Homo sapiens: one gene and its partners. The protein of the gene in region 3 interacts with the protein of the main gene of each other region in a biochemical or structural test. Each region holds a gene or a part of one and is shown on either strand. Other genes may lie near its edges.

What was found.
Region 1: of the proteins of PBK (region 3) and MBP, one has a biochemical effect on the other in vitro, tested with the Homo sapiens proteins (one study listed by IntAct).
Region 2: the proteins of PBK (region 3) and PRC1 form a complex in vitro, tested with the Homo sapiens proteins (one study listed by BioGRID).
Region 4: of the proteins of PBK (region 3) and PTOV1, one has a biochemical effect on the other in vitro, tested with the Homo sapiens proteins (one study listed by BioGRID).

The regions. Positions count from the first base shown.
Region 1 is NC_000018.10:77,010,773-77,017,803, forward strand, and holds part of MBP (Golli-MBP), read right to left. Parts: intron 6,497-7,031; coding exon 6,060-6,496; coding exon of another isoform or gene 6,042-6,059; exon of another isoform or gene 2,021-6,041; intron 1-2,020. UniProt on the Homo sapiens protein: The classic group of MBP isoforms (isoform 4-isoform 14) are with PLP the most abundant protein components of the myelin membrane in the CNS. They have a role in both its formation and stabilization.
Region 2 is NC_000015.10:90,991,529-90,998,743, forward strand, and holds the start of PRC1 (protein regulator of cytokinesis 1), read right to left. Parts: upstream 3,008-7,215; 5' UTR 2,890-3,007; coding exon 2,879-2,889; intron 1-2,878. UniProt on the Homo sapiens protein: Key regulator of cytokinesis that cross-links antiparrallel microtubules at an average distance of 35 nM. Essential for controlling the spatiotemporal formation of the midzone and successful cytokinesis.
Region 3 is NC_000008.11:27,809,124-27,813,848, reverse strand, and holds the end of PBK (lymphokine-activated killer T-cell-originated protein kinase), read left to right. Parts: exon of another isoform or gene 1-2,681; coding exon of another isoform or gene 2,682-2,714; coding exon 2,715-2,891; exon of another isoform or gene 2,892-3,347; coding exon 3,348-3,544; 3' UTR 3,545-4,225; downstream 4,226-4,725. UniProt on the Homo sapiens protein: Phosphorylates MAP kinase p38. Seems to be active only in mitosis. May also play a role in the activation of lymphoid cells.
Region 4 is NC_000019.10:49,846,572-49,854,185, forward strand, and holds the start of PTOV1 (prostate tumor-overexpressed gene 1 protein), read left to right. Parts: upstream 1-4,587; 5' UTR 4,588-4,757; coding exon 4,758-4,928; intron 4,929-4,996; exon of another isoform or gene 4,997-5,105; intron 5,106-7,614. UniProt on the Homo sapiens protein: May activate transcription. Required for nuclear translocation of FLOT1. Promotes cell proliferation.

The DNA of each region.
Region 1 (7,031 bases), on a different chromosome or scaffold from region 3:
GTATCTGCTATATCAATGAACTTTGAGGGCTGCAGTTGAAAGACTATTATTATAGGACCAAGGTAAGTGCCCTGCAAGAAATGTCTATTTCTTGACTATCAGCTACAGCAAAATGAAGACAGAGAGAGAAGAGAAAGAGGAGACTTATAGTGGTCAAGAGATGAAATCAGCGTAATAGGTTTCAGGAGATGTATTGGCTGCAGATGAAATGGATTCTTTTAACCAGGTTAGCAGCTGAGTATGCATGAGAATAGAGTAGTTCCGACACTGAAGAATGTGGGAGCATTCTAGAAGTATTATGGAAAGTGAACACACCGGGGTTTTCAGAGGCAAATCTGTGGTGAGTGTGTGCTTAGCTGTACGTCTCCTGATGGATTCTCCCTGCATGAGAGAGGCTATTTCTAGGTTAGCAGGAATTTCTGGTGACTTTAATTCATGATATTAAAGGTAAGTAAATTGAGTATTCACTTTAGAGGAGGTCTCCGTGGATAAGCCTGCGGGAGTTGCTGTGCTGATGAGACTTGGCTGTCCTCATAAGCAGTGACTCCCATCAGCTGGTGTCCATGAGCGTGAGCAAGTGTACGCTATGTACAGGGCCAACAAGCGAAGAACTTTCCATTAATTTTCCCTCCATCTCCTACAATGGCTCTTCTTCACAAAGAAGATCATCACTGTGAGGCATGTTCTCGTGGCTCTGGTGGGCTGGCGTGAAGCCCCTCTACTGACTCCCTGTCTACTCATGGGGAAGGCAGGTGGCTGGGGTAGCCATAAGACATCCCACTGATGGTTTTCAGGAAATGCAACCTGTAACCCCGGCTGCCTGCCACTCCCAGAGCCAGGAAGAGGGAGGACAAATGCAAGGGCCAGAGAAGACGAAAGGCAAGAATAGCCTCTTAGGAGAAATTGTGTGTGCTAAGCCCGCTTGTATGGGGCTCCCTCAAGAGAGTTCAGTGTTCTTTAGCTGTTTCTTCTTTTTTACTACGTTTTTATGAAGTAGGATGATTTCAGAGCATTAAGAGTGTGCTGATAGCCATAAAGGAAAAAACTTTTAAAAACATTGAATCAGGGTTTGATAGGAAATGTCCACACTTCTTAAATTTGTATCAATATCTAAGTGATTTTCACGAGTGCTATTGTGTGTTTTTTTCTAAGGATGATCTATTCCCTCAGATGTCAAGCCAAGCTCCTAATTCACCGATCAGAATTGCCTGTTATCAAATGTCCAGACTTTTTATCAAAGGAAAATCAACGATGAGAGAAATGAATGCTTTAAAATGCAAATGAGTTTAAAGGGAGGAGATGAGTTAAGACGAGGGTCTGATGGGACATGAAAGGCAGGACCGCATCCAAGCCAATCACTTATCTTTACTCTTGTTTCTAATTTCTCAAAGACCCCAAGTTTCAGCTTCATCTCATACACTCATTATCATCTTTCAGAGAGCCAGCACCATCCCCTCATTTCAGTGTCTCGAGGTTCCCATGACCCCCGTTGTGTGTGAGCTCCCGGGGGGCCCTGTGGGCACTGGCACCCATGTGCACGTTCATTCAGGAGATGCTGGTGGGGCGGGCTGTGTCCATGACAGCACCTGCCAGTGGGATCTGCTCAGCGTCCACCCTCCCTAACATTTGCGGGATGATGCTTTGAGAGAAACACAAGAAACTTCAGGCAGAATCAGAATAGTCACCATAGAAAGACCAGAACACCGAACTGTCAGGGGAGAGAAGACAGTAAAATGTCTCTGTGTAGTAAAAGCAGATGAGTGAGCAACTGTGACCTTCCCACACAGAAGCACAGGTCAGGTGAGAGAAGACAGTAAAATGTCTCTGTGTAGTAAAAGCAGATGAGTGAGCAACTGTGACCTTCCCACACAGAAGGGCAGGAGCTCGGGTGCTCACACTTACCTGCCAGCTGTGTCACCAGGCCACAAAAATGCCGGCAACACAGCACACTGACGTGGTGGGGGCAACCAAACCAAAAACGACAAATTAAAGAAGTTCGCATGCAATTAGTACACTGTCCTTGGTCTGTTAAACTGTTTAATGAATGCATAAAAAGGCAGAAAAATATATAAAGCCAAAAGCTCATAATAAAATTAAATCATGATACAACCACCACAGGCAATTACCATCAAATACATTCCCATGATTTACAAATGTATCGCTTATACAGAGGAAGTTGCAAAATCACTGCCAGTACAGACACATCCAGTCTAATTAACTATCGTCTATTCATACAACAGCAACAACTGCAGCTCCTGAGACCACAGAAGGACACAGTGAGCAGCTGGTGACTGAGCCAGGGTAGCCTCCGATCAATAACTGATCAGAGTAATGAGACTTTGAGAGGAATGCCTATAAGAAATCTCAAAAGGTATTTGTTTGGGTGCAGAAACAAATGCACCCTCCACATTTGGATTTTCTCTAGAAGAATCTGTGGCCAAATCTCTTATCCAATGGAGGTACTGAGTGGCTGGATCAGTTACCATGCAAGCTCACGATGAATGAGATTGAATTTGGTTCTGTGTGCACACTGGGCTCTGGGGAGGGAGGACACCCCTGTGTGTTGCTGCTGCCTTCCGTGCTGTCTACTGTATCCTTCATGTGTCTCCAAATGGTACACGCCCCATGGGATTACAGAACACAGCTACAGAATTAGGATCTCATGGTAACAATGAGGAATTAGGTTACTGTAGAACTAAAATATGTTTAATGAAATTAAAATGCAATGGAAAAAAAATCAGGCAACAGAACATTCTGATGAATTTACAGGACTGATTATATCCCACGGCACTGAATGACAAACAGTTCTTCTCCATACAGTCGCAATTAGAGGCATAGAAGTCATACTGAATGCTGAATAGAAGAACACTGAGAAGAGCAGGTTATAAATGAAGGTTTTCACATAAAACAGAAAAATAGACAAAATCATCGGTAAGAAGCTAGCTTTCGAAAACCTCCCTAAAAGTACACGGCACGGAGAAGTGGGGTACTGGGATGTCCTGGCTGCTTTCTGCTTTGGGAACTATCCAAGTGGCACATCACCATGTCCAGCTTAGGTGTCTTGTGAAACCTTACTTCCTCCACATAAAAAGGAAGGAACGGTTTCCAAAGCTAATGTTTCCAGGCTCTGCCTCGTGACACTCAAGTGGCCTCAGATATGAGCACTGGCACAGAGTGATGCTGGAGAGGTCACTTAGAGAGAAGCTGCCGGGCCAAGCACACGACAATCTTGGCCCTAAGTGCTCACCCATTCCTCATGTGACCCTGACATTCCGGGGAACTGGGAAACCTGTTCCTTAAAGGCAACAACAGTCCTTTCTTTCCTCTCACAACAAAGGAGCATGTTCTCCGTGAATGCACTTTTCATTTACGGCTCTCAAAAGAATATGCCTTCTCAAGGAATTTTTAATGCACTTTTCTTGAATGTCAGCTCCCAGCAACACAAGCATGGGTGTTGTTAGGGCATTCCCGGGCTCGGGGGCGGCCGCTCCAACATGTGGTACCAGCGGCCATGTGCCCTCAAGGGGAGGGAGGAAGAGCACAGGAGGGTGGGAGGAGGACAAACAGCCCCTTTTATAGGGTCATGGGGGGGCTCCACTCAGAGTCTGGCAGGAATCTGCCAGGAAAACCTCGTTCTAGATAGGGAGAAGCAGAACTGTGTGTGGGGCAGGCCGCCGTGGTCCTGAGAGACAGGGCCCGGGCCTTCCACTGCTCGTTTGCACACCTCTTCGGCCTATCCCAAGGACCTTCCTAGCATATAAAAACAGGGGCTCTCCTGATTTGTAAACAGAACAACAAATAAAAATAAAAACAAAACCAAAAATTCCTCCATGGCAGCCCACCCAATGAATACCCCAGATTTTTAGGGCCATTGCGGGTCTGTAGCTGGGTGTAGAGAGAGTTAAGCTTTCATCTCCCATGTTTACAACACTTTGTGATAAAATAGTTGAGTGGAGCAATCACATCCCCACTGCGTGCGCTCCCCCGGGATGCCTCACAGCTGCTCTGTGATCACACGTGCAAATGTTATTATTATTATTTTTTGCCTTTGGCATCAAAGGGCAAGCCTGTTCATTAAAAAATCTTCTATATTCAACACTCCATAGTGAAAAGAATGGATACTTCAAAATTCCTAAAGCAATCATGTGAAAATTATTTTTATTTTTAAAATTTTTGAAAGTGTTTTGATTTTTATGGGTCCTTGATAATTGGCCAGCCCTGTTTTGCAAAGAGATGGACTATTTCTGAGACTAGAATGTTTTCTTTGAAAATATTGAAGAGTATAAGAGATTTAAGACAATAAAGGCTGTAATCTTACCATAAAGGAAGAAAAACATCTATGTGTGTCAATATTGTTTTGAGATAAAGTCACAATGATTGATATCAATGCTTTCACCATTTTATTTCAACTTAAACCAGTGTCACTCACATGAAGCTTATTTTATAATACATATTATCCAGTGATTTCATCTTTTCTGCACAGTTTAAGTACATTTTTTTTTTCTGTACCTTGAAGTAAGCAGAATAGTTCAAGCTTTCAAAACTGGTGATGCTGTATGCGTGAGGGATGCTTACATAATAGCAACGCTTTATTGGGCAACCCGAATCCATACATGTCTGGTGTGGTTTGATAGCTGGGCTTGAAAAAGTGCTTCCAGTTGAAATTAGCATTAGAAATCGGTTAGAACACCAACATTTCAGGGTGAGGGAGGACTGCTACAAAGGAAAAGAACATGTCTACAAATGCACTGAAAGAACTAGCCAGAATATGAATTCCATTAGTATCTAAGACACACAAAATGTCATTTACAAATAAGTCACGGCAAGTGTCACAACCTGAAATCTCAACTCAGACAGATGGTAGAGATGTTAACAGTTGCCTGAAACTTCGATGTGCTTTCACGCCCACAGGAAAGGTAAAACTGACATTTGTGTTTCTCTTCAACAATTTCATGATCAATAAAGAATTGCAGTTGGAGACTAAAGCAAATTCTAGAAACTCCTTAACTCCAAGTTGCCCTATGGTTTTTATGATTGCATGTTATCAGAATGAGGCGCTCTGTTCCACACTTTATTCAAAAGCCTTTTACGCTCCCACAAGGCCTTCTGGAATTCCAGAATCAGCCCTGCACACAGGCAGAAAAACAGCTTCATCTTACAGGTTGTGTGAGAACACCCAATAAACTAGGGACTTTTTTGGGAAAAACTTCTTTCTCTCCAAAATTACACAACCACCAAACACTCTAAACATCACGTAAAATACTGCATCTGCAATCTGAATGGCACTCAGGGACCAGCGCTTTGATGAACCAGCAGCCACAGGTTCTCCACTGACAATCAACTGCAGAAACCACTCCTAGACTCTGGACCCCATAGCAGAGTTTTTTTTTTTTGTAATACATTTTTATCCACATTTGCTTTTGAATAAAGAAACTTCTAAGACTCTGTATGCAAATTAATGGAATCACAAGATAATAAAGCTTTGATTCATAGACACTCATTTATCCCTCCCCCCTTCCACTTCTCAGACCACAGAGAACGTTTGCTCAAGGCGGATTTAAATTGAGGAGTTTGTTCAAAAGTCTTCCTCGACCTCAATCCTATGATTGTCGCAGAGCAACATGAAGCTAGCAGCACTGACTCCAGGAAAAAACGAGCATAACCCAGTGTTGAACCCCAGCGTGTGGGCTGCAGAGGCAACATCAGTCATCAAGTCCGCAAGCACACACCACCAGAGACCCTGAGAATGTGGCTCTCTTTCTGCAACGCCCATGTCCAGGCACCCTTAGAGATCCAGAATTCAGCATGTCCTTACATTCCTGAGCCACACCCCGGCCACCATCCCTTGTGAGGAAAAGAGGGGGTGAGTTAAACGAAAACGTCCTAAGCAGCCACTCAGGCCCACACTCTTGGGCTCATATGCATTCTCCAGCACGGAACGAGACCTTAGACAGCAAGAGGCTACGTGCCAGTTCTTCCTCTAATGGCTGAGTTCACCTACTGATTTCTCCTTTGCTTTTTCCATTTAAACTAAAACTCCTCTACTCCTCAGAGCTCACCTTGCCAGAGCCCCGCTTGGGCGCACCCCTGTCACCGCCAAAGAAGCGCCCGATGGAGTCAAGGATGCCCGTGTCTCTGTGCCTTGGGAGGAAGCCATGCCTGGCATGGTCCATGGTACTTGCTGTGGCCAGGTACTTGGATCCGTGCCTCTGGGAGGGTCTCTTCTGTGACGCCATCACATCCAGGCTCTCGGAGGTGGCTGCACTGTCTTCTTGGATGGTCTGGAGCTCGTCGGACTCAGAGGGCCTGTCTTTGAAGGTGTTGTCCTCCCTCCCCGGGGCATCTCGGGAAAAGAGGCGGATCAAGTGGGGGCGGCTCCCTGGGTCAGCTGGGTGGGCATCCTGCCAGGCATTCTTCGGGTCCGCTGTGCGCTTGGAGTCAGTCACCGCTGTGTCCTGAGAGGAGGTCCCATTGTTCTGGTTCGCATCTGCCTCTCCTGCAAACAACAATGAGATATGAATACGGGCCTGTGCAAAGCTGAGCACCGGACAAAGCAGCTTTCTCTGAGGGGTCTTGACCTAGCTGTCTCCTATAAAACCCACAGAATATGTGCAGTCCTCATAAAGCCCTTGGCCTAGGATGGAGCTAACCTGGATGGAGCAGCCTTATTGCAGCTCTGTGTTTCAGAAGGCTCTGGGAATTCCTCAGTTACTCGAGATTTGGCACCCAGCGTAAAATGCACCCAGGCTTCCCGATGAAGTCATCTGAGCATGCAGAGCAGCCACATCAGCGTTTCTTCCCGGGTGCTGCCATGGCTGCTCCCGGAGAGCCCAGATGTGCAGGCACCTTGATGGGACATTGACTGTTTAAAAGGCCACTGGTGCATAAGTTAAATATGCAAGGAGCATTTATTTGACAAAAGGTGTTTTTAGTTTTCTTGGTAGAAACAAAACTTGCCACATCTTTTTGCAATTCATGCATGAAAGAAGTGGGGCATTTAGAATTGTTTCAATCCCAGATTCCACAAGAGG
Region 2 (7,215 bases), on a different chromosome or scaffold from region 3:
TAGAGACACTTCCTGTAAGAGGATCATTTTCAAATTAAAAACTAACATTTCTCACTCTTCCTAACATTCAAATTGTACTGAACTTAATTTTTTTTTTAAACTTAAATCTTGTATCATCCTTGACACTTCTTTCTTATATGCCCGCCATTAGCATTATCTACACAAGACAGGCAGAATCTCACTCCTCCTGACCTCTGCTGCTACCACTACCACCCCCACCCTGGTCCAGGTCACCACCACCAACTTCTTGCTGTATGGCAGGGGCCTCTTAACTGGTCTCCCGGCTTCGAAGCTGGCCTCCTTAAGTCCATTGTCAACACAGGAGCCCCAAGTCCTAATCTTCTACTCAGAACCCTCCAACGACTTGCCATCTCACTCTAAGGAAAAGCCTCTGACTTTCCAAAGACCTATGGAGCCCCATTCCATCTGAAAGCCATTTCTTTTGACCTCAGTGCTCATTCTATTCCTGTCACAGCGACCTCCTTGCTCTTTCTGGAACATACCAGGCGCTATCTCCCCTTAGGGCACTTGGATTTGCTGATTCCTCTACCTAGATCTCTTTTCCCCCATGCTGCATGGCTTCACCCTTTTCCTTCTTAGGTCTTTGCTCAGAGATCACCTTCTCAGGGAGGCCTTTCCTGACCCATCTCTTTAAAACCACAACCCCCCTTCCTACACCTTCAGTACTTCTTAACCTCTTGATTTCTCTACATAGCACTTACCACCATTTAAGACTAACTTATTTATTACACTCCTCTTTTGCTATTAGAATATAAACTCTGTGAGGGCAGGGATGTCACTTTTGCTCACTGCTATATCCCCAACACTTGCAATGGTTCCTTGTATATAACAAACATTCAAGAAGTATTTTTCTTTTCTTTTTTAGTATAAATTATTATTTTTTAAATAGAGACAGGGTCTTGCTATGTTGCCCAGGCTGGTCTTGAACTCCTGGGCTCAAGTCATCCTCCCACCTTGGCCTCCCAAAGTGCTGGGATTACAGGTGTGAGCCACTGTGCCAGGCCCAAGAAGTCTTTTTGAATGAATAACGTGACATTTCAAAAAAGTTGTATGATCTTAAGATGCTTCAGAGCAATCATTATGAACAATTATCATGATACACTTAAATACTCCCTGGCTAAATTGTTTCAGATAATCCCCTAAAAGCAGCAAGTCTGAGTTTTTTTTTTAGATTCACTGAAAAAAATCAAGAGTGCATACAAAGACTACCACTCAAGGACAAAAAGGTTGTAAAATGAGTCAGTTTTTCCAGTCTTGAACATAAATCACTGGACTGGAAGGTATCTCACAGTGGTCCTTAAATTATTTTCTACCTTCAGGCAGCCTTCACTGATCCACTGCCCTATTTTTTCTTAGCATTCCAGAGAAGGAGCTTTGTTGATCTCCAGTTCAACCTGTTTCGGGGATCGATAACCATAATTAATTCTGGCCAGAGTTTCGTTTGAGCCTCAGAGGTCAAAGCTGCAGTGAGCAATCTCGCCACTACACTCCAGCCTGGGCGACAGAGTGAGACCCCGTCTCAAAAAAAAAAAAAAAAAAAAAAAAAAAAAAGTTAATTATATCCATTAGCCTGGAACCAACATTAAAGGGTAAGTTTTCTCCTGCTTCATTCAATCCCTTGATAGAGGAGATGCCTACATAATTCATAAACTGTTAATGGACTTTTTTTTTTTTTTTTGAGACGTAGTCTCACTCTGTCGCCTAGGCTGGAGTGCAGTGTCGAGATGTCGGCTCATGCAACCTCTGCCTCCTAGGCTGAAGCGATTCTCCTGCCTCAGCCTCCTGAAAAGCTGGGGGTACAGGCGCGCCACCAGGGCCAGATAATTTTTGTATTTTTAGTTAAGACAAGGTTTTACCATGTTGGCACTCAATTCTCATTATTCTGAGGGCAAGCATTTTAAAAAGACTGATCAGAATTAGTGATCATGAAATGAAGAATCTTACAAAGCCTTAGAACAATCAGTTCCACCAAAAACTACACATTATTTAACGCTGTATCATCAGAAAACTGCATCCACAACTTTTAGAAAATAAAGTTAATATTTGGAAGTCACAAGGTTGGTAAGTGGCAGTGTCACCGTCTGGTCCCGATTTCAAGTCGGACAGTCCCTCCCCAACACCGCCTAGGAAGTTATTAAAACGACCGGAAAAGAATTCCATAATCCGTTTCTTAACTTGCAAAGAAACAAAGCTATCTTTCCAATTCAAACAAAACGTTAACACCGCTGGCCAGATATAAAGAAAAACAACGGGCCGGGCACGGTGGCTCACGCCTGTAATCCCAACACTTTGGGAGGCCGAGGTGGCAGGATTACTTGAAGCCAGGAGTTCGAGACCAGCCTGGCCAACATAGACCGCGTTTCCACAAAAATAAAAAAAAAGAATAAAACAAAGAAAAACAACGATAAATAAACTTAACAGCTTTAAAGAAAAGCCACGACCACAGAAGGTTTACAACGAGTCATCTGCGCCAAGCAGCGGCACCTGAGACGCTGCGGGCGGGGAGGGTGGGGTCCGAGCGCCAGCGCTGACCGCCTGGGTGGAGGCCGCCCCGGGCCCCGGGCCTCGACTACCCTGCCGCGTCCGGGCACCGGCGCTCGGCTCCCACCCGGGCGTCTGAGCCTGCGGGCACCTGCGGCCGCCGGCGGACAGCGCGTCAGGTCTCACCGCCGCGGCCCTCGCACTGGCTCGCCGCCTCCAGACCCTGCCCCTCAGCGCCCCCGGCCTCCCTCGGCGCCGACTGCCGTGACGATCTAGGCCCGGGACCCCGCACGGGTCCCGCACCCCTGAACAGGCCCCGCAGCCGAAACGAGCGTCGCTCCCTCCCGCGTCCCCTCGATTTCCCCGCAACCCGCACCTTCTCCTCATGGCGGACGCTCCAAGCAGCCGTGAGTCCAGGTCCAGACCTACTCCACACGGCCCCGAGAGCAACAACCACCCGCAAACACCGGCGATGTCACTCCGCGTAGCCGCTCCGCGAGCCGTTGAGCCCCGCAAAATTTCAAACCGCGCCACGGGGCGAAGCCTCGTCGCGATTGGCGTCGCGTCCCGTCGCTCCAAGAAAATCCCCGCCCCTCGGGCTGAAGTCGCGGGTGCGCAATCGGGGTGGGGACTCGCGAGCAGGGCCTGGGAAGCGCCGGAGTGGCGGCGGGGGATGACGTCACTGTCTGTGAGTGGCCGGGCGTGGCCTGCGCCTCCCGCTTCCCTGGCTTGGCGGCAGCCTCAAGGGACTCCTCTCCCAAGCCAGCTACCTCATCGGAGCGCCGCCCCGCCTCGCCCCGCGCAGTTTGGATTCGAAGTGCGCGGGCGGGGAGGGAGTTGAGAGCACCGCGGCTACCTGGCTTCCCTGAGTCCCGGCTGCCGGGAACGGGCGCGGGGGTGAATAGGTAAGTTAGCGCCTAGTTTCCCTCGCTCATCCAAGAAGCGAAGCTTGGAATCGATCTTTGGTGGGACTCTTCCCCAGATGTAAGAAGCCATACACTAAAGGGGAAGGGAAGGAACATTGAGTCCTGCTCATGGGCCTGGAACGTTTCAACGCCAGTTATCCCATTTAACCTCCACAATCGCCATTGCAGAGGAAACGCAAAAAGATTTGAATGATTTGCCTAAGTCACGTTATCAAATTAGATGAGTTTCTAAATCGTTACATGAAAAATTTAAAACTCAAAATAGACATTACTTTTGTAGCCTCCTTTCCTCGATGAACATGTTACATCCCTAAATGCTTATATATCACCGTTTTTTCCCAGTGATTCATGGTGGCATGGTGGCATGAATCCTGGTGTGTAGATATCTCGCCCATTCTGCTATTGATATTTAGATGATAATTTAAAAGATAAGGCTGGGCTGAATATCTTCATACATAAATCTTTGTGTATGTATGTATTTATAAATGCATCCTGCATTTTCGTACGGCTGATTCCTAGAGGTGTAATTACTGAATGCTCCCTTTATTAATTTGCCTTCTGCACAAAGCCTCACCGGAAAAGTACCCTCCTTTTGTTACCCTCAGCAGGGCTGAATTCTATTGTACTTCTAAACATCTTTGCTCATTTTGTAGGTAAAATAATAATACTGGCATTTCCTTGTTTGGCACTTGATTATAATTGAAATTGCACATTTTTCGTGTTTATTGGCCAACTGTAACTTAAGTGAATCCTCTTCATATGCCTTTTCCCTAAAGGTAAAGGATGCTTGTTTGCTTCACCTTCAGAACCATATTTTTCTTATTTTCAGAAAAACTTCATTAGTGCTTTCAATGTTCTTTTTACTTTTTTTAATTGAGACGGAGTCTCGCTCTGTCACCCAGGCTGTAGTGCAGTGGCCCAATCTCAGCTCACTGCAACCTCCGCTACCTGGGTTCAAGCAATTCTTGTGCCTCAGCTTCCCGAGTAGCTGGGACTACAGGCACGCACCACCATGCCTGGATACTTTTTTTTTTTGTATTTTTAATAGAGACGGGGTTTTGCCATGTTGGCCAGGCTGGTCTTGAACTCCTGACCTCAGGTGATCCGCCTGCCTCGGCCTCCCAAAGTGTTGGGATTACAGGCGTGAGCCAACGCGCCCGGCTTCCATGTTCTTTTTAACTTGTCAGCAGCATGCCAAACATTCACAGCACCAACACAGTGGGCGACAGGCACCACTTTTTCAATTTCCTTGCACTCTGTGATTAACATTGACACCACTAATAGAGTAGATGGTAGCACTACTTTTAAAATTTACTTGCATTCTTTGTTGATTAAATTAACAGGAGAGCTTTTCAGAAAGCTTCACAAATTTGTGATCTTCATACTTGTTCTTAGCACCAGCATTATGAAGTATCCAAAGAAAAGGCAATTTTTTCTCTCTTGTCCTTTACACTGAGGTGCTGAGGCTAACAAAGTCATAGAACTGATGCAAAGATATCCATTCAGAGCATAAACGCAGCATGTAAAACACTGTGTAATACGCGTTTATAATATATGACCTTAGCCTGGGCACTGTGGCAAAACCCTGTCTCTATAAAAAATACAAAAATTAGCCAGGTGTGGTGGTATGAGCCTGTAGTTCCAGCTACTTGGGAGGCTGAGGTGGGAGGATCACTTGAGCCCAGGAGGTCAAGGCTGCAGTGAGGCATGGTCACGCCACTGCACTCCAGCCTAGACGACAAAGCAAGACCCTTTCTCAAAAAAAAAAAAAAAAAAAAAAAAAAATCCTATTACAGGGTCATATATTTCTACTGGATGGAAGTGCAATGTTTTGCCACTGTTTAATCTTTTTCTGATGCCACCTATTCTTTCTGTGAATTAACAGCCCTGTTGGCAGTGTCTTTGGTCTTGCACACTAGCTTGACATAACACTCAAAATTCTAGCTAGATGCTTGAGGAATGCCTTTTCCTTGGAATATATTCTTATACAGAATTATCATTATTCTTATTTATTTATTTATTTTTTGAGACAGAGTCTTGCTCTGTTGCCCAGGCTGGAGTCCAGTGGCATGATCTCGGTTCACTGCAGCCTCTGCCTCCTGGGTTCAAGCGATTCTCCCACCTCAGCCTCATGAGTAGCTGGGACTACAGGTGCGCGCCTCCACAGCTGGCTAATTTTTATATTTTAGTAGAGACAGAGTTTCACCATGCTGGCCAAGCTGGTCTCAAACTCCTGACCTCAAGTGATTTGCCTGCCTCGGCCTCCCAAAGTGCTAGGATTACAGGTGTGAGCCACCGTGCGGGGCCCAGAATGATCATTATTCTATAGGAAGAATACTTTTGATGATCCAGTAACTCAGGTTTTGATTTTCTTTCTTCCTTTTAGTAAGTGGCAGCACTGTGGAATGGGGAACAGATGGAAGAATGAGCAGCTGGGAGGCACACTCTTGCAAAAACCCAGGCAAGAGACAATAAAGACCTCTGTCGTAGGGATGGTGAGGAGAAGATGAACTAGAGACATTTAGAAATAAGAACCAATAGCACAAGGGAACCAGCTGAAGGTGGGGCATAGAAAGAAAAAATCTGAGGTCAAGAATACAATTTTTTGCTCATTTGAACAAAGTTTGGGAATACAGGAAGAAGAGCAGATTAAAGGATTCAAGTAGGGACAGGAGCTTCCACTCATGAGTTTATTTTGTACATGCTGAGTTTGAAGTGCCTGTGGAATGACCAGGTAGGAAATACTTGTGTGGCGCTAAGGAGTGAGATGAAGGCTTGAGATCTGGAAGTGGATGACAACAAAGGACAGAGAGAGGGGAGATGTCAGCAAATGGGATGAGCAGAGAGGAGTAATCAAAGAACAACCTAAGAGACTGTGGGAGGACAAAGAAAGGGTATTATGGAAGCTGAATAAGACAATTTCAAGGAAAGCATAGTCATCAGTGAGATCAAGTTGGAAGAGGCCTGAAAAGAGGCCACTAATATAGGTGGTTGTAATTCCTTCTTTTTTTTTTTTTTTTTGAGACAAGGTCACAGCTTACTGCAGCCTCGACCTCCTGGGCTCAAAGGATCCTCCCACCTCAGCCTCCCCAGTAGCTAGGAATACAGGTGTGTGCCACCACCCTCGGCTAATTTTTTTATTTTTTGTAGAGACGGGGTCTTCCCATGTTATCCAGGCTGGTCTCAAACTCCGGGGTTCAAGCGTTCCTCTTGCCTCGGCCTCCAAAAGTGCAGTGATTACAGGCATGAGCCACAGCACCTGGCCTATATTTCATCATTTTTAAAAGGTAAAGAGAGAGAGAAAGGCTACTAGCATCAGTAATGAGGAGGGTGCTGGCACATTTATAGGAGCACTGTTTGCTGATGCCTGAAATGGCTCTAATGGCACACAATCTTTCATTCTGCAATAAGAAACAAACGCTTAAAATTGAAGTGCCTCCTTAAATTAAAACAACAAAGTCATTTTCTCAAAAATGTAATGAATCACAACATTTTAGAACTGGAAACGTGCTTGCTGGTCACCTCAGCCATCTCCCTCATTTTATGGTAGAGGAAACTCAGGTACAGAGTGGTAGAGTGATTTTTACAGGGAAGAACCAGACCAGGCCTGGAGCCACTACAAAGTCCAGGCCAAGAAGCACAGGAAGCCCCTGTAGCAAGCTCCAATGGGCTTTCACTAATAAAGATGGAAGTGCGTGTCCAGAACGACCAACGTATTACATCTGAGAGCAGAGGCTTTATTTACAATGACATTCAAACAGGATTTAGCAAAGGATGCCTCTTCCTG
Region 3 (4,725 bases):
CAATTCAGTCTAATACTACATGAGAACACTACATCTTGACCAACTAGGACTTATTCCAGGAAGGAAAAGTTGTAACATTCAAGAATCAATGTCCTCACTATGCTGTACGTTAGGTCACCAGAACTTACTCATCCTGCATAATGGAAGCTTCGTGCCCTTTGTTAATACTGTACACTTGAGATTTGCTGAGAGTAGATCTTGAGTATTCTCACACACACAAAAAAATGGTAACTATATGAGGTGATAGATATGTTAATTAGCTTGACTGTGGCTATGAGGTCAGTGTTTACATATATCAAACATCAAGTTGTATACCTTAAACATATATAATTTGTTAATTATACCTCAAAGCTTGGGGGAGGAGTCAATAAAATTCACCATATTAACAAAATTGTTTAAGTTCTAGGGTACATGTGCACAATGTGCAGGTTTGTTACATAGGTATACATGTGCCATGTTGGTTTGCTGCACCCATTAACTAGTCATTTACATTAGGTATTTCTCCTAATGCTATCCCTCCCCCCTACCCCATGACAGGCCCCAGGGTGTGATGTTCCCCACCCTGTGTCCAAGTGTTCTTATTGTTCAGTTCCCACCTATGAGTCAGGACATGTGGTGTTTGGTTTTCTGTCCTTGTGATAGTTTGCTGAGAATGATGGTTTCCAGCTGCATCCATGTCCCTGCAAAGGATATGAACTCATCCTTTTTTATGGCTGCATAGTATTCCATGGTGTATATGTGCCACATTTTCTTAATCCAGTCATTGACGGACATTTGGGTTGGTTCCAAGTCTTTGCTATTGTGAATAGTGCCACAATAAACATAAACGTGTACATGTGTCTTTATAGTAGCATGATTTCTAATCCTTTGGGTGTATACCCAGTAATGGGATTGCTGGGTCAAATGGTATTTCTAGTTCTAGATCCTTGAGGGATTGCCACACTGTCTTCCACAATGGTTGAACTAGTTTACAGTCCCACCAACAGTGTAAAAGCATTCCTATTTCTCCACATCCTCTCCAGCATCTGTTGTTTCCTGACTTTTTAATGATTGCCATTCTAACTGGCATGAGATGGTATCTCATTGTGGTTTTGATTTGCATTTCTTTGATGACCAGTGATGATGAGCATTTTTTCATGTCTGTTGGCTGCATAAATGTCTTCTTTTGAGAAGTTGTCTGTTCATATCCTTTGCCCACTTTTTGATGTTTTTTTTTTTTTTTTTCTTGTAAATTTGTTTGAGTTCTTTGTAGATTCTGGATATTAGCCCTTTGTCAGATAGGTCGATTGCAAAAATGTTCTCCCATTCTGTAGGTTGCCTGTTCACTTTGATGGTACTTTCTTTTGCTGTGCAGAAGCTCTTTAATTAGATCCCATTTGTCTGTTTTGGCTTTTGCTGCCATTGCTTTTGGTGTTTTAATCATGAAGTCGTTGCCCATGCCTATGTCCTGAATGGTATTGCCTAGGTTTTCTTCTAGGGTTTTTATGGTTTTAGGTCCAACATTTAAGTCTTTAATCAAATTTGAAAACTACATATCTCAATAGATACCGAAAAAGTGTTTGACAAAATCCAACATCCATTCTTGATTTAAAAGTTAGTTTAAAATCTAGTTAACCTCTCAGCTAACTAGAAATAGAAGGGATCTTAGCTTGAAAAAGGCTGTCTACAAGAAAAACCTGCAGGTATCATACTGAAGTAGGGAACAAGACCAGGATGCCTGCTCTTGCCAGTTTTATTTAGCAGTCCTATAGCCCTAGCCACTAAAATAAGGCAAGAAAATGGAGAAGGCAAAATTGGAAAGGAGACGAAACTGTCCCCGTTTGCAGTTGATATGTTGTTTAGGTAGAAAATCCCAAGGAATCTATAAAACAGCTATAGTGAAGTTAGTGATTACATTTCTGTGTATTAGCAGTATATAATTGAAAATGGAATTGTTTAAAATCTATTTACAAGTACCAAAACCCAAAATATTTCGGAATAAATAACCAAAAAAGTCTAAAACCTCTGTAATGAATACTATAAAGCATCACTGAGAAAATTCAGTAAGATATAACTAAGTGGAGAAATATATGACTGCGGTTTGGAAGACTCAATACTATTAAGATGTTAATGCTTACTAAATTGATCCAGAGATTTAGTCCAATCCTAATGAGAATTTTAGCTGGCTTTTTCATTGAAATTGACAAGTTGACTCAAGTTTAAATGGAAATGTGAGTGGACCTATTTCTTTCTTGGGCTTTAAAAAAGAGCCTATGTGTGATTGGTCCCTTTCCCTTTTCCTTGACATAGCAATCATGGAAGCATAGAAATGGTACTTCTCTCAGCCTAATATTGTTCACAAAATGAAGAAATTCAGGTCTAGAAGTGATCTGCTCAAGGTCACGCAGCTTGCACACACATGTCTTTGAACCAACCCAAGCAAGGCAGTCTGGCTCCAGAGTCTGTAATCTCAACATCCACATTCTATATTCCTACTAATTTGTAAGAGAATTGCTGTTTCTCTACATACCTGCCAACTGACCAGCTTCTTGAATATTTACCAACCTGAAAGGTAGAAAGTAATCCTTATTGAGGTTGAGTGTATTTTTACATTTTCTGGCTACACTGATTAACCTGTGAACTACTTGTTCAAATCGTTCGCCTGTTTCCCTTTGGGTTGCTTGCCTTTTCGTGATTTGTAGCTCCTGCCTTCATAACCATCTTGCTTGTTTCAGTGACTGACCCTGAGGCTTGTTACATTGGCACAGAGCCATGGAAACCCAAAGAAGCTGTGGAGGAGAATGGTGTTATTACTGACAAGGCAGACATATTTGCCTTTGGCCTTACTTTGTGGGAAATGATGACTTTATCGATTCCACACATTAATCTTTCAAATGATGATGATGATGAAGGTATGAATACAATTTCTAACATAAATCCCAATCTCTTCATTTCACACTAAAGATTATATAATTTTATCTTTCTAAGATATGTATTAGTACTGATGACTGATTTGGTACCACCAAGGTTTAATCTCACACAAATGAGACATAGATTGAGAATAGGGAGAAAAATTGAGGCTATCCAGAGAAGCAAAACATTATCTTAAAAACTCCCCTTTCCTGAGAAAATGATTGATTGGAAAACTATCACAGGAAGGGTAAAAGTAGGGGTCGATAACCTATAAATCCAAGACTAAAGCAAATCTACTTGATGGCAGGACAATTGAAGACATTTCCATTCTGTCTGTGGCAGAATGGAAAGCATACTGGACCATAAATTCTTGTTTCAGGAGAAGGGTGAGCTATTAAACTTTTCCATGACATAAAGTGATTTTGTTTATTGTTTCAATCTCTAACTCCTTCAAGATAAAACTTTTGATGAAAGTGATTTTGATGATGAAGCATACTATGCAGCGTTGGGAACTAGGCCACCTATTAATATGGAAGAACTGGATGAATCATACCAGAAAGTAATTGAACTCTTCTCTGTATGCACTAATGAAGACCCTAAAGATCGTCCTTCTGCTGCACACATTGTTGAAGCTCTGGAAACAGATGTCTAGTGATCATCTCAGCTGAAGTGTGGCTTGCGTAAATAACTGTTTATTCCAAAATATTTACATAGTTACTATCAGTAGTTATTAGACTCTAAAATTGGCATATTTGAGGACCATAGTTTCTTGTTAACATATGGATAACTATTTCTAATATGAAATATGCTTATATTGGCTATAAGCACTTGGAATTGTACTGGGTTTTCTGTAAAGTTTTAGAAACTAGCTACATAAGTACTTTGATACTGCTCATGCTGACTTAAAACACTAGCAGTAAAACGCTGTAAACTGTAACATTAAATTGAATGACCATTACTTTTATTAATGATCTTTCTTAAATATTCTATATTTTAATGGATCTACTGACATTAGCACTTTGTACAGTACAAAATAAAGTCTACATTTGTTTAAAACACTGAACCTTTTGCTGATGTGTTTATCAAATGATAACTGGAAGCTGAGGAGAATATGCCTCAAAAAGAGTAGCTCCTTGGATACTTCAGACTCTGGTTACAGATTGTCTTGATCTCTTGGATCTCCTCAGATCTTTGGTTTTTGCTTTAATTTATTAAATGTATTTTCCATACTGAGTTTAAAATTTATTAATTTGTACCTTAAGCATTTCCCAGCTGTGTAAAAACAATAAAACTCAAATAGGATGATAAAGAATAAAGGACACTTTGGGTACCAGAAGGTGTCTCAGCATTATTTTATACTTCATTGATTTGAGTGTTGTCATTAAACTTGAGTAAATGTGAGGTTTCTTTCCCTCTCTTGGCCTTATTTTGCTAATCTATAAAGTGTTTTGGATCAGTAGTTTCTGTAAGCCACAGTCCCCTGGGAATTTTCCAAATTACTGAATTGCCAATGTAGGTGGTATACCTACATTTGGGTGTAGACAGAATTTTAAAAATTACCGACACAGGGCGTTCTCAGAAACATTAGGAACAACTGCACTCTGAACTTTAAAAATGCCTAGAAATCACTGAAGGCCTTTTGGTATAAGATTGTACCAAGCAATAGGACACAACATTAATTTGCATATATTCCATCAAAATAATGTGACAAGTAAATTGGAAGTTGTCTTAATTTGTAGAAAAACGTATGTATAATTTTGCATCCTGATACTCAATAGGGTCTCTTATCCTCACTCTGACATGTGTCACTCTTCTTTGCCAAGCCAACAGAGC
Region 4 (7,614 bases), on a different chromosome or scaffold from region 3:
AGTTGTAGAGATGGGGTCTTGCTATGTTGCCCAGGCTGGTCTCAAACTCCTGGGCTCAAGCAATGCTCCAACCTCAGCCTCCCAAAGTGTTGAAACTACAGGTGTGAGCCTCTGCGTCTGGACACACACGATGATGACAAAGTTGAAATACCTAGAGTTTGCAAAGCATGTATCAGGCAGACCTTTAAAAAAAAAATCAGCCATAAACTATTTTGTAATTGCAAAGAAAGAAAAGAAAAATCCAAGCCAGAGATGATCTTACTCCCATTTCTTAGCATAAAGCATTTTATTATCTTTTTTATTTGTTTGTTTTGAGACGGAGTCTCACACTGTTACCTGGGCTGGAGTGCAGTGGCACAATCTCAGCTCAATGCAACCTCCGCCTCCTGGGTTCAAGTGATTCTCCTGCCTCAGCTTCCCAAGTAGCTGGGATTACAGGCACCCACTACCATGCCCAGCTAATTTTTTGTATTTTTAGTACAGACATGGTTTCACCATGTTGGCCAGGCTGGTCTTGAACTCCTGACCTCATGATTTGCCCGCCTCAGCCTCCCAAAGTGCTGGGATTACAGGTGTGAGCCACCGCACCCAGCCTATTAGCATTTTTTGAGACAGAATGTCGCTCTGTCGCCCAGATTGGAGTGCAGCTCACTGCAACCTCCGCCTCCCCGGGTTTAAGCAATTCTCCTGCTTGAATTGGAGGATCAATCAGGAGACTGTATTTGTATTCCTGAGTAGCTGGGATTGCAGGCGCCTGCCACCACGTCTGGCTAATTTTTGTATTTTTAGTAGAGATGGGGTTTCACCAGGTTGGCCAGGCTGGTCTCCTGACAACAGGTGATCCACCTGCCTCAGCCTCCCAAAGTGCTAGGATTACAGGCATGAGCCACCGTGCCCGGCCAGTATAAAACACTTTGTCCATGTTGTCATTGTGTCCTAGCCTATGTCATCCAACCTATATGTACTGCCAGTTTGTTCTTCTAGGAAACTCAGACTTGGTAGTTGATTGGTTTAACAAATGTTGGTTAAACTGGGATTATTTGGGAAAAAAAAATTGTGTATATCAGGAAAGGCCAGATTACCCCCAGATTGCAGTGGCTTGAAACAGCCAAGGTGGATTTTGTCACTCGTGCTGTATTGAGTGTCAGCTTGGAGCCCGTGCGGACAGATCATGAAGGTTGCCAATGGACATAGTAAAGGCAGAGGGGTCTGGTCTTCCATTAGCAATTATGTGCTCTTGCTGAATTCACATGTGTCACTTCTGCTCATATCTCATTGGCCAGATGTAATCACATGGCCTCACACCTTACTGGCCAAAATTAATCACATGGCCGCACTCAAGCTAAATGGGGTCAAATGCTGGCCAAGTGTGGAGCTAGAAATATATGGCAAATAGCACTAACGGCCATCTTAACACTTTAAACATCTTATTTTAACCAAGAACATTTAAACAGACATCTCTTGTACGTAGGACCAAGACCCTTTCTTTCAGTATTGGTCTCCTAGTTAGCACACGACATTACATTCTTGTTTTTGAGACAGGGTCTCACTTTGTCACTTGGACTGAAGTGCAGTGGTGTGAACACGGCTCACTACAGCCTCAATCTCCTGGACTCAAGAGATCCTCCCACCTCAGCCTCCTGAGTAGCTGGGACCACAGGTGCATGCCACCATGCCTAGAAAATTATTGTTGTTTTTGTAGAGGTGGGAGTCTCACTGTGTTGCCCAGGCTGGTCTCGAGCTCCTGGGCTCAAGCAATCTTCCCACCTCAGCCTCCCAATGTGTTGGGATTACGGGCATGAGCCACTGCGCCCAGTAGAACATCACATTCTTGTATAAGCTCCACCCACAAACCACAATGAGTCATTTTTTTAAGTGGCTTGAGAACCTAAAGACATTTATGAAACAAACTGGGGGCTGAGTCTTCCTAGGTTTTTATAAGCTTTTTCATTAAATAATTTACAGTTGCTTTACTTGTACCTAACTTGGCAGCATTTTTTTTTTTTTAAGAGATGGAGTCTTGCTTTGTTGCTCAGGCTGGAGTTGCAGTGGTGAGATCTCAGCTCACTGCAACCTCCACCCCCTGGGTTCAATCGATTCTCCTGCCTTAGCCTCCAGAGTAGCTGGGACTACAGGCATACACCACCATGCCCGGTTAACTTTTGTATTTTTAGTGGAGACGGTGTTTCACCATGTTGGCCAGACTGGTCTTGAACTCCTGACCTGAAGTGATCTGCCCACCTCGGCTTCCCAAAGTGCAGAATTACAGGTGTGAGCCACCACGCCTGGCATGTTTTTCTTTTAACAACTCCCTTTTAGTCTTTCCAAAGCAAGCAATCTGGTTTGTGTATAAACAACTGTCTTGCATTAATTTCATTAGTTTGATAGTAAATTAAACAAGAACTTCTGGCATAAACAGGTTTGGATCAAACAGCTACCTTTCAGGAAGTAAACAGCTTGAGAGATGGAAGTGGAATTGCTTAGTCATAATAGTAGCCTGCTAGCCCCAGCAGTGGGCTTCACAGATGAAAAGGAAAGTGTCTTTCAAGTTGGTGGACCGAGTTAAGTGAGATGGTTTCAGAGAGTTTTGTTGCAGTATTACTGATAGAATTTCAGCCTACATTTTCATTTCACTTTCTGACATGAGTTCCCATTTTGCTCACTCTGGAGTACACCCTGGTATACCGCTCTCCATGCTTATACAATTCAGGGCATTCAAACTCACGTGTGTCCTGATGGGTTCTGAGGGATGGGAAGGCATTAACAGGTAGAGAACAGGAAGGATGGGAGAGAGATTTTTTGGGGGGCGGCAGCAGGGGCCACAGTACCAAGTTTGGATTTAATTCTAAAGGCACTGGGAAGCCATTGGATGGTTTTGATTATTGTAGTGACAGAGAAGGCAGCAAGAGTTAGGAGACGTCACCCAGGCAAGAGATCTTGATGGTTTGGACCAACAAGAATGGGGAGAAGTGAGGATTCCGGGAGATTAAAGCAGCTCCTGTTTTTTCTCCTTCCTGCTGCCAGGTTGTCCTCACATGGGTGATTGACAGGGCATTGGAGGTACCTGTTGATAACTAACTTGCAGTTTGTGTTCAGGGAGCACTGACTCCGTTTGGCCACAATGCAGGTTGGATTTGGGGTTTAAGGCTGGGCTCCAGTCAGCCCTCGGGAGCCCCTGGGCAGGAAAACATGGACAGGCCTACGGGTTCTTCTGCCATTTCACTGGCCACTCCTCCGTGTCCTTTGCTGGTTGCTTCTCATTGTCGTGACTGCTAAAGGGATGAGTGTCCCAGTCTCTTTGTGAGCTCATCCAGTCTCCATTCAAACACTGATGACTCCCGAATTTCTCTCTCCAGGCTATGACATCAATATCTATCTACATTGTTTAGTCAACATCCGAAACAGAAGTAGGGACTCCGTCTCTAACCTCCTACAGCTGTGTCTATTTCTCCTCTCTACCTTCACTCGACTCCGCCCACACTGGCTCCCTTTTATTCCTTCTACTTTCAGGATTTGTCTTTGCTGTTCTGTCCTCTTTGCACACTTTTCCAGCCATCTGGAATGGCAGGTTGCTCACAGGTCGTTTTCTTGACTTCCCTTGCTTGCTAACTTTACCTCGCTATGGTCATATCCCATCGCCCTGTGGATGTGCGCTAGTTAACACTTAGCACAGCCTGTGATTATGTCTCTCCCCAGTGGACCGTGGGGCCTGTGAGGGACGTGGTCTGATTCGGTCGTCGCCGAGCACAGAACTGGACAGGGTACTCATAACAGATTTTTGTTGTTGTTTTTAAAGAAAAGCTAACATTTGAGTAGTGACTGCGCCAAGCAGTCAAGCACAGCCCCTCGGGCTCGATCCCCATAACCACTCTAGGGTTAGGTATTACCCACGTTTAAGGAACAAAAATCGAGGGAAAAATCTTATACAACTACTAGTAAGTAGTCATTCCATTTTAGCAGAGCGAATGAGCGAATCCACGGAAGGCCGGGGAGCGACGTGAGTGGCGAGAAGCTTGGAGTCGCCAGGGACGGCGGGCGGAGCCTGGGCGCCGGGGCTAATGGGCGGAGCCTCCAGGGACAGCTGGCCCCGCCCAGGCCGCGCGGGGCCCGCTGGGAGTTGGAGTCCCTTGCCCACCTCGCCACGTCACCGACTGCAAACCTTCAGCTGTCTCAGGCTCGGGTGCAATCCGTACCCTCAGTGGGTTCCCTTTCAGTGGGTTCCTTTGTCCCCAGGCCCATTATTCCGTCCTCCCCTCTTCCCTGATGTATTTTGGCGCGGTCTCCTGGCTCTGCGGGCCCAGGGCTCCGGATGAGGTCTCCCGCCGTCCCGACCCCCGCAAGGGGCCAGCTTGGTGTCGCCTTCGTTCTTCTGCCACCCCATTCGGTAGGGGCTCCCGTTCCCGCCACGCCCCCTGAAGTTGTGGCTCGCGCGTCTTCCCAGGACTCCCCCGCGCCGGAGAGGCCCGCAGGACCGCCGAGCCCACACTCCGCTCCCGCCCGGGCCCCGCTCCCCCGCGCCGCCTTGGTACGCTCCGGCCACGCCCCCTCGGACGCGCTTGGTACGCGCCGGGCTCCCCCGCTCGCCTCAGTGGTTCGGCCGCGGCGACCCCACTCCGGCGGCGCGTCCCCCGAGCTTGGTACGGCTCAGCCCGTCTCCCCCGAAGCCGCGCGCCCGCGCCCGCGCCCCTCAGTCGGTGGAGCCCGCAGCCCCCCTTGTGGCCCGCGGCAGCTCCCCGCCCGCTCGGCCCGCGCCCGCCATGGTCCGTCCGCGCCGTGCCCCGTACCGCTCCGGCGCCGGGGGCCCCCTCGGGGGTCGCGGCCGCCCTCCGCGGCCCCTCGTGGTGCGCGCCGTCCGCTCGCGCTCCTGGCCTGCCAGCCCCCGAGGCCCGCAGCCTCCGCGGATCCGGGCCCGCTCGGCCCCTCCCATGGTGAGCCCCCCGCCCTTTTTCCAGAGCCTTCCACGGCCCCGCCCCCCCAGCCCCTATCCCGGGCTCACGCCTTTGTCCGCAGCCCCCGCCGCTCCGGGGTGTCCCCTGTGGCCCGAAGGGTGGTCCCGCCCGGGGCCGGGTTCCCCCGTGGAGCACCCGGTGGTTCGCGCCGCGCTCTCCCCTTTGTTGCGCGTTCGGGCCGGGGTGGGGGGTTGGGGGACGGGGGCGGGGCGGGCTCATATTACTGCTGACTCCGCGGCCCGATTTAAACGCGGGCTGGGGGCGGCAGACAGGCAGCCGGCACGCTCGCTTGTTTTTCCTATTGGAGAGTTGCTCGCTCTCCGGGCAGGAAACCTGGAAATGGGGGCGGTTTTGGGGGACAGCGGCGAGGGAGGGGCCCGCGCTTTGTACCAGCGCCCCCAGATGTCGCACCCGTGGGCGTTCTCCCCTGGCGGCCGCTCCGTGCCCGTGGAGTGCGCACCTAGAATACGCGCCCGCGCCCACATGTGGGATGCTTTGATGGACTGCCGTGAGCCCAGACCTTAAACGTAAACATTCAGCTTCGCAGGTACTTTGGGCTGCACACGCTTCTCCGGACCCAAAAGATGCACATGCTTTTCAGAAACCGTAAGGTTTACCTGGGGCTGTAAAACCGCACATCGCGACTTTGCACCGTGCACACGCTTGCCCCGATGTGAGATTTCCCCTGGGTTCGCGCTCGGGTCCGCTTCTTAAATACACTGCCTCAGCGGTGTGGATGGCACAGAGCTGTGGCAGCCCTACTGAAACCTTAAACAGGCTTCCTGGGGTCATAAACATGGATACCGAGACTTAGATCACCTCCCACAACTTAAACGTACCCCTTCACTCCACTGCCTTCGCCCCTTCCTGCAGCATTCGCATCTAGTTGTTCAAAAGTGCTTTCCGGGTCCTCAGACATGCACCCCAAGGTTTTAAACCTCAGTGCAAGTACTAGATGGGCTTCCCTGTGCAATAGGGATGTCAGGCGCGCAGTTTTGCACACGATTGCCAAGATGTGAGATTTACTTTAGGTTGCACCTTAACCGTCGTTTTTAAATATGATCGTCCCATCTTGATGTGCTGCTCCTGCTGTGGAAGGTATCCCTGGGTTTTAGGCAAGCATATGTGTTCTTTACTATGGCTCCAGATCCCAGCATATTTGAAGTCCTGAGTCAACCTGCTCTCCTAGACAAGCAGACATTAAGTATGTCGCTTGGGCTCTTAAGTGCGTTCTCCTGACTTTTACCCATCTTTGTGGCAGTAAATGCATACGTGTCACTGTATATGCGGACTAGATACCTCAGGTCCCAGCGCCATAAACAACTTGTATGTTGTAAGTGTACCCTCATCTCGAAAGTCACCTCCAGCTGTGCGTTTTAACTCATCTCAGATGCTGGATGTCCGGTATGGTGCCTGAAGCCCCCGGGGCAACATCCACTCTCTGTCCAACTCATTCTAACGCCAAGATACTCAGGTTTTCTATCTGATCTTCTGACGACTGCCCAAAAGTCAGAATCACCTGCGTGGGTGAAGAATCACCTGCGTGGGTGGAGAATCACCTGCGTGGGTGGAGAGCAAGTTTGTTCAGGTTTTTCTCTTTTTAAGCACTCACAAAATAAAATTTTTTGTGTTTGCTAGTATTCTGGAAGGAAAGATCTCCTTGTGCTTCATAGAAAATTTGGAAAATACCTGTTTGTAATAAGATAAAAATAAATCACCCTTATAATTTGTTTTCCCCCGCCTGGAGGCGCCTATTACGGGGAAACTCTCGTGGGTTTCCTGCTGCCAGGCTGTTTGCGGAGCTTTCCCTTGTTTGCTTTGAGATGTTTTTGGTTTTAAAAAACAATAAGTGAGGTCAGGCTTGGTGGCCCTCGTCTGTAATCCCAGCACTTTGGGAGGCCGAGGCGGGCGGATCACTTGAGGTCAGGAGTTCGAGACCAGTCTGGCCAACATGGTGAAACCCCATCTCTACTAAAAAAAAAAAAAAAAAAAAAATTAGCCGGGCATGATGGCGCGGCTTGCAGTGAGCGAGGTTGCAGTGAGCTGAGATCGCACCACTGCACTCCAGTCTGGGAAATGAGTGAAACTCTGTCTCAAAAAAAAAATAGTAATAAAAATAGTGGGGAGAGTGCCTGTGAGTAGCATTTGTGGCGTTGCTTGGCTTTATTGCTAGAACTTTCTCTTGGTGTTCTACATGTTTTGGTCTGTGAGACCCCTCTGGGGGTGGTGTCCCAGCTGTCTTCCAAATGTTTCCCCCTTTTCCTCGCTGTCTTTCTCCTGGATGGTTTAGTCCCCTCTGTGTTTCTTGTCATCTCCTTCCTGCCTCCCCCCGGGGTCAGACTTATAAGGCCAGAGAGGTGGGCACTGGCCTGAGCCAGAGGAAGGAATTGAACTTTGGGATGACAGGGAGCTTTAGGAGAGTTTCAGCCTGGGAAAGACAGGGCAAGCTGGTGTGTGGGACAGACACAGCGCAAGCCGGCTTGTGCCTGTGGAGGCTGCAAGGAAGCCCTGGGCCCAGCCTGGGGCACGGGGAAAGCCCCCTACAGCTGGCTTCTAACTTGGGTCTCAAGAATCGATCAGGCGCACAGCTGGGGCAAAGGCTGGAGGTGGGGCTGGCTGAAGGCTTCAGGACTCTGCTGGGCCAGTGTCAAGGTGACAGCAGGCT